2 linked regions of the Homo sapiens genome follow. The protein of the gene in region 1 purifies or fractionates together with the protein of each later gene. This does not show direct contact. Each region holds a gene or a part of one and is shown in the gene's direction. Other genes may lie near its edges. The genes, in order: BMPR2 and BMP7.

What was found.
Region 2: the proteins of BMPR2 (region 1) and BMP7 purify together in Homo sapiens (affinity purification with western blotting; 2 studies listed by BioGRID). This does not show direct contact.

Annotation. Positions count from the first base shown.
Region 1 is NC_000002.12:202,379,155-202,386,445, forward strand, and holds part of BMPR2 (bone morphogenetic protein receptor type-2 precursor), read left to right. Parts: intron 1-7,291. UniProt on the Homo sapiens protein: On ligand binding, forms a receptor complex consisting of two type II and two type I transmembrane serine/threonine kinases.
Region 2 is NC_000020.11:57,168,174-57,172,853, reverse strand, and holds the end of BMP7 (bone morphogenetic protein 7 preproprotein), read left to right. Parts: intron 1-1,745; coding exon 1,746-1,895; 3' UTR 1,896-4,101; downstream 4,102-4,680. UniProt on the Homo sapiens protein: Growth factor of the TGF-beta superfamily that plays important role in various biological processes, including embryogenesis, hematopoiesis, neurogenesis and skeletal morphogenesis.

The DNA of each region.
Region 1 (7,291 bases):
CAAAATTTGTGAAGCTGGATTTCAGACCTGTAACAGTAATGATAATAGCTAGTATTTATTAAGTGCCTGCCATGCACCATCAGCTATTCAAATAACTTTACATATATTTTTTCATTTCGTCTTCATGACAATTCTATGTTGTAGGTTATTATCATTCCCCTTTTCCATAGAGGGAGAGTAAAGTACAGAGAATTTGAATAACTCACCACACAGTCAGTAAATTATGGAGCCAGGATTATAGTGTGCGCCCTCACATACCACATTAATGGTAACAGCAGCACTAGCAGCAACAACTTCTCATCTTATTGGATATATGAGATGGAGTAATTAGCCTTCACCAGATCAACCTTTGTAAAGAAGCAGGGACACTTACAAGGTGTTAGTGCAGCAGTGGTTATGCAAATGTCGTAGTTCTGAACATGTAAAACTTTGCTTGGCCTAATATTGAAGTGGCTAGTGCAGCTTCATTAAGTGCAAGCTGATTAGAGAGGGCCTGTGTGGATTTGGGTTACACAGATGCAGTGATGTTAACTCGACAGGCGCAAATGGTGCAGCTGAACAGGAAAATAAATCCTAGAAGACTGATTGATAGCACATCCTTTTTCGGGGTCATGGATAAATCATTTCTTTTGATTCCCTCTTTCTCACTTATTGAGTTCTTGGACTCCTTAATTCTTAGAACATTTTCTTTCTTTCTTTCTTTCTTTCTTTCTTTTTTGTTCAGACAGAGTATCACTCTGTCGCCCAGGCTGGAGTGCAGTGGCACGACCCTGGCTCACCACAACTTCCGCCTCCCAGGCGCAAGTGGTTCTCCTGCCTCAGCCTCCAGACTAGCTGAGATTACGGGAGCCCACCACCATGCCCAGCTAATTTATTTTTATTTTTTGTATTTTTAGTGGAGACGGGGTTTCACCATTTTGGCAGGGTGGTTTCGAACTCCTGACCTCGTGATCCACCTGCCTCGGCCTCCCAAAGTGCTGGGATTACAGGCATGAGCCACCACACCCCGCCTAATTCTTAGAACATTTTCTATGCCCCCCCCAAAAAAAAAAACAACTTATGAAAAATAAGATGTGCTGGCTTGGTTTATGAATGAATTCTTAATAAAAGAATACAACACAGCTATTATTTAAAGGTCAACTTCTGTAATGCGTTTTAAATAATTCACTTGATTAGATTGCAATTTTACATACATCTCTTGAGGAACACACACATTATATAAAGTAAGATTAATCTAATGTTAGTGAATATTACTGAGTAACTGAAGTTTAGTAATCTTCATTTTAGTTTTTCTCAAAGTGTGGGTACTGCAACAGAATTACCTGGGGTTCTTGATAAAAATGCATATTTTTGGCCCTATAGTCCAGATGTACTGAATGAATCTCTCTGGGAGAACCCCCGCAAAGTCTCACTCAAGCAGGTGCTTGAGAAGCACTGCTTTATATCATCAGTCCTGATTGTTTGGATTTCTTTCTTTTTTTTTTTTTTTTTGAGTTTTGCTCTTGTTGCCCAGGCTGGAGTGCAATGGTGTGATCTCGGCTCACTGCAACCTCCACCTCCCGGGTTCAAGCAATTCTGCCTCAGCCTCTCGGGTAGCTGGGATTACAGGCATGTGCCACCACTCCTGGCTAATTTTGTATTGTTAGTAGAGACAGGGTTTCTCCATGTTGGTCAGGCTGGTCTTGAACTCCTGATCTCAGGTGATCTGCCCGCCTCGGCCTCCCAAAATGCTGGGATTATAGGTGTGGGCCACTGTGCCTGGCCCTGGCCCTGGCCCTGGCCCTGGCCCTGGCCCTGGATTTCTTTCTTTCTTTTTTTTTTTTTTTTTTTTTTTTTTTGAGACAGAGTCTGGCTCGGTCACCCAGACTGGAGTGCAGTGGCGCCATCTCAGCTCACTGCAACCTCTGCCTCCCGGGTTCAAGTGATTCTTCTGCCTCAGCCTCCCAAGTAGCTGGGACTACAGGTGTGCACCACCACACCCGGCTAATTTTTGTATTTTTAGTAGAGACGTGGTTTTACCATATTGGCCAGGCTGATCTCAAACTCCTGACCTCGTGATCTGCCTGCCTCTGCCTCCGAAAGTGCTGGGATTATAGGCATGAGCCACCACGCCTGGGCTGGATTTCTTAAATATGGTGATTCAGTGACATTTTGCTGTGTAATTATTGGCAACCACAAAATCTTAGTGGCATGCAACAATAGGCATTTATTCTGCTCCATGTGTCTCTTTCTGGGGTCCAGGCTAGAGGGAGAAGTAACATCTATCTGGGGGAGGCTTGTGTCATGGCATTGGCAGAAGTGCAAGAGGCCAAGCCCAACCCTACCAGCACATTTCCAGACTCTGCTCTCCTAACATCCCATTGGCTGACCGAGTCATATGGCTAGGCTAAGCTCAGAAACAAGAGGTATCAAAGTACACTTTGCCTGTGATGAGGCTAATGTAATATTTGGATATATAGTACTATTGCAGAAGAACGAAGAATTGAAATTCTCAGTAGACCACATATAACCAGTAAGATGGTCCAGAAGGGAGGCTTTTCTTACCCTTTGAAGAGGGCCAACCTCTTAATTAGTTTTTTGCATTAAAATGATATAAACTTTGGTCTCTACAAAAGCTATTCTGGCATGTGGGATGATGTGATAGTAGTGGTATTGATGTGGATGAGTAGTGAGGTGAGAGATAACTGTTCACACAAGACAAAACCTTTCCTTCATTAAAGGCCAGTTTTTTTTTTAACAAAAAGAGAAGAAATTGAATATTGATCTCTAATGGGTAAATTCTAACCATTAAAAAAATACTGAGTGGAATCTGTGTGAATCAGTTAATTTTATAATTGGCCACACCACTTATTTTGGCACCTACTCATAGATTGCTGTGCTGCTGGATATCAGTTTTTGTTTTTGTTTTTTTTTTTTTTTTTTTGAGATGGAGTCTTGCTCTGTCACACAGCCTGGAGTGGAGTGGCACGATCTCGACTCATTACAACCTCCACCTCCCAGGTTCAAGCCATTCTCCTGCCTCAGCCTCCCGAGTAGCTGGGATTATAGGTGTGCACCATCATGCCTGGTTAATTTTTGTATTTTTAGTAGAGATGGGGTTTCACTATGCTAGCCAGGCCGGTCTCGAACTCCTGATCTTGTGATCCACCTGCCCTGGCCTCCCAAAGTGCTGGGATTACAGGTGTGAGCCACCACACCCGAAATTTTTTTATTTTTAGTAGAGATGGGGTTTCACCATGTTGGCCAGGCTGGTCTCAAACTCCTTACCTCAGCTGATCCACCCACCTTGGCCTCCCAAAGTGTTGGGATTACAGGTGTGAGCTACCGCACCTGACCAGGTATCAGTTTTATGTATTTGCCTTGTCCTTCCTACTGATAATTGCTTCCAGAGGACAGTATTCATGTCTGATTAGTTTTATAATTTAGTAGACATTTAAGAAATACTTAGTGAATGAATAATAAATAGGAATTTCAACCAGGAATATTCTAGGGTTGTTTATTGACTCAAATAACACACCAATAACTTTTTCTTTGTCCTAGTTCCTTCAACTATAAAGTATGTAGTTTAAGAGGTATAGTGGGAAGACCACTGTTGGGAGTTAATGAGACCTAGATTCTATATGATTCCGGGCAAATAGGTTACTTAACATAGTTTTCTTACTTGTAATAATATGGGGTTGTACTTGATCATTTTGAAATACAGATTCATGGGTACCCCACTAGACCTACTGAATCCAAATCTCTGGACAACGAGCCTGGGAATCTGCCTTTGATGCCCTCATCAGCCAGTAAATTTTAGGTACCTTTGAGAACTACTGGATCTAAGATTCTTTCTAACTCTCAAGTTCTATAACTTTATTTCTACTTTTTGTGGTAATTACTACTTAATCTATATCTTTTATTGCTTAATCTGGTAAACATTAGGAACAAACATTTCTTAATTTGTGCATTAAGCAATTACCCAAAATCTTTTCCTTTTAAAAATTTGCAGTGTGGCCTGGGCGAAGTGGCTTACTCTGTAATCCTGGCACTTGGGGAGGCCAAGGCAGGCGGATCACTTGAGGTCAGGATTTCGAGACCAGCCCTGCTGTACAAAAAATACAAAAATTTGGCTGGGAGCTGTGGCTCACACCTATAATCCCAGCACTTTGGGAAGCCAAGGCGGGCTGATAACCTGAGGTCAGGAGTTTGAGACCAGCCTGACTAACGTGGTGAAACCCCGTCTCTACTAAAATACAAAATTAGGCCAGTTGCCATGGCTCACGCTTGTAATCCCAGCACTTTGGGAGGCCAAGGTGGGCTGATCACCTGAAGTCAGGAGTTCGAGACCAACCCGGCCAACGTGGTGAAACCCTGTCTCTACTAAAAATACAAAATTAGCCGGGTGTGGTGGCACATGCCTGTAATCCCAGCTACTCGGGAGGCTGAGGCATCGCTTGAACCTGGGAAGCGGAGGTTGTGGTGAGCCGAGGTTGTGCCTTTGCACTCCAGCCTGGGCAACAAGAGCGAAACTCTGTCAAAAAAAAAAAAAAAAGAAAAAAACAAAATTAGCCACGCGTGGTGGTGCATGCCTGTAATCCTAGCTACTCAGGAAGCTGAGGTAGGAGAATCACTTGAACCTGGGAGGCGGAGGTTGCAGTGAGCCGAGATCGTACCACTGCACTCCAGCCTGGGTGACAGGGCGAGACTCCATCTCAAAAAAAAAAAAATTACTATTTTCAAAAGCACTAATATTGGCTGGGCCTGGTGGCTCATACCTGTAATCCTAGCACTTTGGGAGGCCGAGGCTGGTGGATCAACTGACGTTAGGAGTTTGAGACCAGCCTGGCCAACATGGTGAAACCCCATCTCTACTAAAAATACAAAAATTACCCGGGCGTGGTGGCGGGCGCCTATAATCCCAGCTACTTGGGAGGCTGAGGCAGGAGAATCACTTGAACCCAGTAGGCAGAGGTTGCAGTGAGCCAAGATTGTGCCACTTTACTCCAGCCTTGGCAAAAGAGTGAAACTCCATCTCAAAAAACAAAACAAAACAAAAAAACACTGATATGAAAGATTATATGCATGCCTAGAATCACAATGCCCAACACTGTACCTTAACCCTGCCTTGTGCATCAGTAACGTTTAAAATACATTACCCAAATTATCAAGATATAGTGCAAAATGTGTGCAATCATTCACGTCTTAAATGTGTCGACGGTGGACTTGGTGGAAAAATTATGAGACATGATAAAGTATTGTGCCAGAGGCATTGGCCTAAGAATTTTAGATGGAGTTAGGTATTTGGGACAGTTAGGTATTTGATCCACATCTCTTTCTGGAAGGTTAGATGCAAATGGAGGTTGAGAAATTTCAGTTTCTTTCTTTCTTTCTTTCTCTTTCTTTCTTTCTTTCTTTCTTTCTTTCTTTCTTTCTTTTTCTTTCTTTTCTTTCTTTTCTTTCTTTCTTTCTTTCTTTCGACGGAGTTTTGCTCTTGTTGCCCAGGCTGGAGTTCAATGGCAAGATCTCTGCTCACTGCAACCTTCACCTCCCGGGTACAAGTGATTCTTGTGCCTCAGCCTCCTGAGTAGCTGGGATTACAGGCATGCACTACCACACCCAGCTAATTTTGTATTTGTAGTAGAGACGGGGTTTCTCCATGCTGGTCAGGCTGGTCTCGAACTCCCGACCTCAGGTAATCTGCCTGCCTCAGCCTCCCAGAGTGCTGGGATTACAGACGTGAGCCACCGCACCTGGCCAAGAAATTTCAGTTTCTTAAAACCAGATCTCACTTCCCCTTTCTCCTTCAAGACAGTAGTTTGCCCTTATAATTGGTGTCAAAAATGTACATGATCATGTACTTTCATTCTGCCCCAGTAAGTTTAGTGCAAAATAGGAAAATTTAGAACAAAATGTGTTAATGATAAGTGTGAAGGGATGTATAAATATTTGGCCAGTAATCCAAATTCTTCAGTTTTTTGTTTCATTTAGATGAGGAAATAGTTAAGACTTTCTATTATTATTAATCTGTGTTCAGTCTTTGCTTTTGTAAATAAGAATAGTCTGTGAGCAAATCTATGTAATTGTAGTAGACACACCAGGCTAACCTTTTAGGGCAAGCTTTTTTTTTTGTTTTCATTTGAAAAATTAAGAGAAAAAATATTAATCTTCACACAACCCTAACACTTTTTGTTTTGGTATGTTTTCTTCTAATTAAAAAAAAGATGCTTTTTTTTTTTTTTTTTTTTTTGAGACGGAGTCTCGCTTTGTTGCCCAGGTGGGAGTACAGTGGCGTGATCTCGGCTCACGACAACCTCCACCTCCTGGGTTCAAGCGATTCTCCTGCCTCAGCCGCCCGAGTAGCTGGGACTACAGGTGTGCGCCACCATGTCCGGCTAGTTTTTGTATTTTTAGTAGACACGGAGTTTCACTGTGTTGGCCAGGCTGGTCTCGAACTCCTGACCTCGTGATCTGCCCGCCTCAGCCTCCCAAAGTGCTGGGATTACAGGCGTGAGCCACCACGCCTGGCAAAAAAAAAAAAAAAAGCATGTATTTTTATATGGTTGTGATTTTATAATATCTATTAATTATATCTGTTTTTTTTACATAGAATAATATAGTCATGTATATGTGATCTTAATAACTATCATTTTTTCATAATTGTGTGATATTCCATTGAGTGTATTTGTTATTTACTTAATTCATATTGGGAGATGTTTAGGTTGTTTCCGATTTTCTTCTCTAATAAACAATGCCATATTTAATACTTCTGTGCGTATGTCCTGCTTGTTGTTTGATTTATTTCCAAGTTCTTGTTTTGACCTATCTGTAGCATGAGCCAATTTAATCCTTTTTTTTCATCCTTCAAGTACTTTCTTCATTTGGCTTTTAAGATACTATTCTCTCTTGATTTTTCTCCTACCTCACCAGCAACTTTGATAGTTCCTCCTTATGTCCCTGATGGCTAAATGTTGTGTTTCAGGATTCAGTCTTTAGACCTTTTCTCTGTCTGCACCCACCCTCTTGGTGATCTCATCCAGTTTTATGGCTTTAAATAGCATCTAAAGGCGTACAAGTTTCAAATTTATTTCTATCTCAGACTTCTTTCCTTGAAATTCTGTTGCATGTAGCCAACTGTGTATCTGTCGTATCTACTTGGATGTCTGATATTCATCACAAACTTAACCTGTCCAAAACTGAACTTCTGAAGCTGCTTCACCAGACCTGTTCCTCCTATGTCTTAGCCTATTCAGCAAATGTCAGTTCTATCCTTCCAGTTGTTCAGGCCCCAAATTAGAGATATCTTTGTCTC
Region 2 (4,680 bases), on another chromosome or scaffold:
GGTAAACAGATGAGAAATTTCAGTGAGGGGCACAGTGATCAGAAGCTGGCCAGCAGGATAATGGGATGGAGAGATGAGTGGGGACCCATGGGGCCATTTCAAGTTAAATTTCAGTGGGGTCACCAGGAAGATTCCATGTGATAATGAGATTAACGTGCCCAGCACGTGGCGACACTCAGTAGGTGTTATTCCTGCTCTGCCAACAGCAACCATAGTGATAAGAGCTGTAGGGATTTTGTTCTTTTGCTTAGAATCCAAGGTTCAAGGACCTTGGTTATGTAGCTCCCTGTCATGAACATCATCTGAGCCTTTCCTGCCTACTGATCATCCACCCTGCCTTGAATGCTTCTAGTGACAGAGAGCTCACTACCAGGACTACTCCCTCCTTTCATTTAGTAATCTGCCTCCTTCTTTTCTTGTCCCTGTCCTGTGTGTTAAGTCCTGGAGAAAAATCTCATCTATCCCTTTCATTTGATTCTGCTCTTTGAGGGCAGGGGTTTTTGTTTCTTTGTTTGTTTTTTTAAGTGTTGGTTTTCCAAAGCCCTTGCTCCCCTCCTCAATTGTAAACTTCAAAGCCCTACTTGGGATTGAAGGTCCTTAGGCTGGAAACAGAAGAGTCCTCCCCAACCTGTTCCCTGGCCTGGATGTGCTGTGCTGTGCCAGTATCCCCTGGAAGGTGCCAGGCATGTCTCCCCGGCTGCCAGGGGACACATCTCTATCCTTCTCCAACCCCTGCCTTCATGGCCCATGGAACAGGAGTGCCATCGCCCTGTGTGCACCTACTTCCATCAGTATTTCACCAGAGATCTGCAGGATCAAAGTGAATTCTCCAGGGATTGTGAAATGATGCGATTGTGGTCATGTTTAAAAGGGGGCAACTGTCTTCTAGAGAGTCCTGATGAAATGCTTCCAGAGGAAATGAGCTGATGGCTGGAATTTGCTTTAAAATCATTCAAGGTGGAGCAGGTGGGGAAGGGTATGGATGTGTAAGAGTTTGAAATTGTCCATCATAAAATGTGTAAAAAGCATGCTGGCCTATGTCAGCAGTCACAGCCTGGAGGCTGTGAACAGAGTGCCAGTCACTGATGCTCTTGCCTGGCACCTACAGTTGCTGGAAACCCAGAAGTTTCACGTTGAAAACAACAGGACAGTGGAATCTCTGGCCTGTCTTGAACACGTGGCAGATCTGCTAACACTGATCTTGGTTGGCTGCCGTCAGCTTAGGTTGAGTGGCGGCCTCTTCCCTTAGTTTGCCTTAGTCCCCACTATTCCCTATTGTCTTACCTCGGTCTATTTTGCTTATCAGTGGCACTCACGTGGCACTCATAGGCATTTGAGTCTATGTGTCCCTGTCCCACATCCTCTGTAAGGTGCAGAGAAGTCCATGAGCAAGATGGAGCACTTCTAGTGGGTCCAAGTCAGGGACACTATTCAGCAATCTACAGTGCACAGGGCAGTTCCCCAACAGAGAATTACCTGGTCCTGAATGTCGGATCTGGCCCCTTCCTTCCCCACTGTATAATGTGAAAACCTCTATGCTTTGGTTCCCTTGTCTGCAAAACAGGGATAATCCCAGAACTGAGTTGTCCATGTAAAGTGCTTAGAACAGGGAGTGCTTGGCTTGGGGAGTGTCACCTGCAGTCATTCATTATGCCCAGACAGGATGTTTCTTTATAGAAACGTGGAGGCCAGTTAGAACGACTCACCGCTTCTCACCACTGCCCATGTTTTGGTGTGTGTTTCAGGTCCACTTCATCAACCCGGAAACGGTGCCCAAGCCCTGCTGTGCGCCCACGCAGCTCAATGCCATCTCCGTCCTCTACTTCGATGACAGCTCCAACGTCATCCTGAAGAAATACAGAAACATGGTGGTCCGGGCCTGTGGCTGCCACTAGCTCCTCCGAGAATTCAGACCCTTTGGGGCCAAGTTTTTCTGGATCCTCCATTGCTCGCCTTGGCCAGGAACCAGCAGACCAACTGCCTTTTGTGAGACCTTCCCCTCCCTATCCCCAACTTTAAAGGTGTGAGAGTATTAGGAAACATGAGCAGCATATGGCTTTTGATCAGTTTTTCAGTGGCAGCATCCAATGAACAAGATCCTACAAGCTGTGCAGGCAAAACCTAGCAGGAAAAAAAAACAACGCATAAAGAAAAATGGCCGGGCCAGGTCATTGGCTGGGAAGTCTCAGCCATGCACGGACTCGTTTCCAGAGGTAATTATGAGCGCCTACCAGCCAGGCCACCCAGCCGTGGGAGGAAGGGGGCGTGGCAAGGGGTGGGCACATTGGTGTCTGTGCGAAAGGAAAATTGACCCGGAAGTTCCTGTAATAAATGTCACAATAAAACGAATGAATGAAAATGGTTAGGACGTTACAGATATATTTTCCTAAACAATTTATCCCCATTTCTCGGTTTATCCTGATGCGTAAACAGAAGCTGTGTCAAGTGGAGGGCGGGGAGGTCCCTCTCCATTCCCTACAGTTTTCATCCTGAGGCTTGCAGAGGCCCAGTGTTTACCGAGGTTTGCCCAAATCCAAGATCTAGTGGGAGGGGAAAGAGCAAATGTCTGCTCCGAGGAGGGCGGTGTGTTGATCTTTGGAGGAAAAATATGTTCTGTTGTTCAGCTGGATTTGCCGTGGCAGAAATGAAACTAGGTGTGTGAAATACCCGCAGACATTTGGGATTGGCTTTTCACCTCGCCCCAGTGGTAGTAAATCCATGTGAAATTGCAGAGGGGACAAGGACAGCAAGTAGGATGGAACTTGCAACTCAACCCTGTTGTTAAGAAGCACCAATGGGCCGGGCACAGTAGCTCCCACCTGTAATCCCAGCACTTTGGGAGGCTGAGGTGGGCGGATCATTTGAGGTCAGGAGTTCGAGACCAGCCTGGCCAACATGGTGAAACCCCATCTCTACTAAAAATACAAAAATTAGCCGGGCATGGTGGCACGCACCTGTAATCCCAGCTACTCTGGAGGCTGAGGCAGGAGAATTGCTTGAACCCCAGAGGTGGAGGTTGCAGTGAGCCAAGATCGTCCCACTGCACTCCAGCTTGGGTGACAAAACAAGACTCCATCTCAAAAGAAAAAAAAAACAGCACCAATGAAGCCTAGTTCTCCACGGGAGTGGGGTGAGCAGGAGCACTGCACATCGCCCCAGTGGACCCTCTGGTCTTTGTCTGCAGTGGCATTCCAAGGCTGGGCCCTGGCAAGGGCACCCGTGGCTGTCTCTTCATTTGCAGACCCTGATCAGAAGTCTCTGCAAACAAATTTGCTCCTTGAATTAAGGGGGAGATGGCATAATAGGAGGTCTGATGGGTGCAGGATGTGCTGGACTTACATTGCAAATAGAAGCCTTGTTGAGGGTGACATCCTAACCAAGTGTCCCGATTTGGAGGTGGCATTTCTGACGTGGCTCTTGGTGTAAGCCTGCCTTGCCTTGGCTGGTGAGTCCCATAAATAGTATGCACTCAGCCTCCGGCCACAAACACAAGGCCTAGGGGAGGGCTAGACTGTCTGCAAACGTTTTCTGCATCTGTAAAGAAAACAAGGTGATCGAAAACTGTGGCCATGTGGAACCCGGTCTTGTGGGGGACTGTTTCTCCATCTTGACTCAGACAGTTCCTGGAAACACCGGGGCTCTGTTTTTATTTTCTTTGATGTTTTTCTTCTTTAGTAGCTTGGGCTGCAGCCTCCACTCTCTAGTCACTGGGGAGGAGTATTTTTTGTTATGTTTGGTTTCATTTGCTGGCAGAGCTGGGGCTTTTTGTGTGATCCCTCTTGGTGTGAGTTTTCTGACCCAACCAGCCTCTGGTTAGCATCATTTGTACATTTAAACCTGTAAATAGTTGTTACAAAGCAAAGAGATTATTTATTTCCATCCAAAGCTCTTTTGAACACCCCCCCCCCTTTAATCCCTCGTTCAGGACGATGAGCTTGCTTTCCTTCAACCTGTTTGTTTTCTTATTTAAGACTATTTATTAATGGTTGGACCAATGTACTCACAGCTGTTGCGTCGAGCAGTCCTTAGTGAAAATTCTGTATAAATAGACAAAATGAAAAGGGTTTGACCTTGCAATAAAAGGAGACGTTTGGTTCTGGCTCTTTGGCCTGTGTCTGTCTGTGTGTGTTGTGTTTTTCTCTCAGTTCTTGGACACTGAAGTTCTCTCACACTGCTAAGAGCTCCCTGCCTTCGTCTCCACCGTGAACGCTCTGTTTAGCATCCAGGCCTTGCGGGGAAGTGGCCGCTCGTCAATATTTGGTGCAGCTGTGTGGGGCTCCGGGCAGGAGAGATGGAACCAAGCAACACATGTGAATTTGGTAGGCTCGACTACAAAGGTCCTTGATTGAATTACAGTGCAGCTGTCAGCAGCTGTTTCAAAGAGGCAGGGGGTAAATTAGCTGTGTTTACTGCTAACATAGTTGAAAGATTTAGTCATCCCAATAAAATAGAGGCACCACAGAGAGAAAAAGGGCAGGAGGTGCACGCCCAAAACTTTAAAGCGGTGCCGGCCCCAGAGCTGACACTGTCCAGTGCAAATGATTGGGGCAGTTGCTGGAGCGCGACTGTGGACGTGGATGGCCCCCAGCAGGCCTGGCGAAGGCGGCCAGGGCCCAGTGTCTCGCCGAGCATGGAGCAGCACTTGGCTGCGTAGCGTGGAGCAGCAGTTTGGACGCCTTT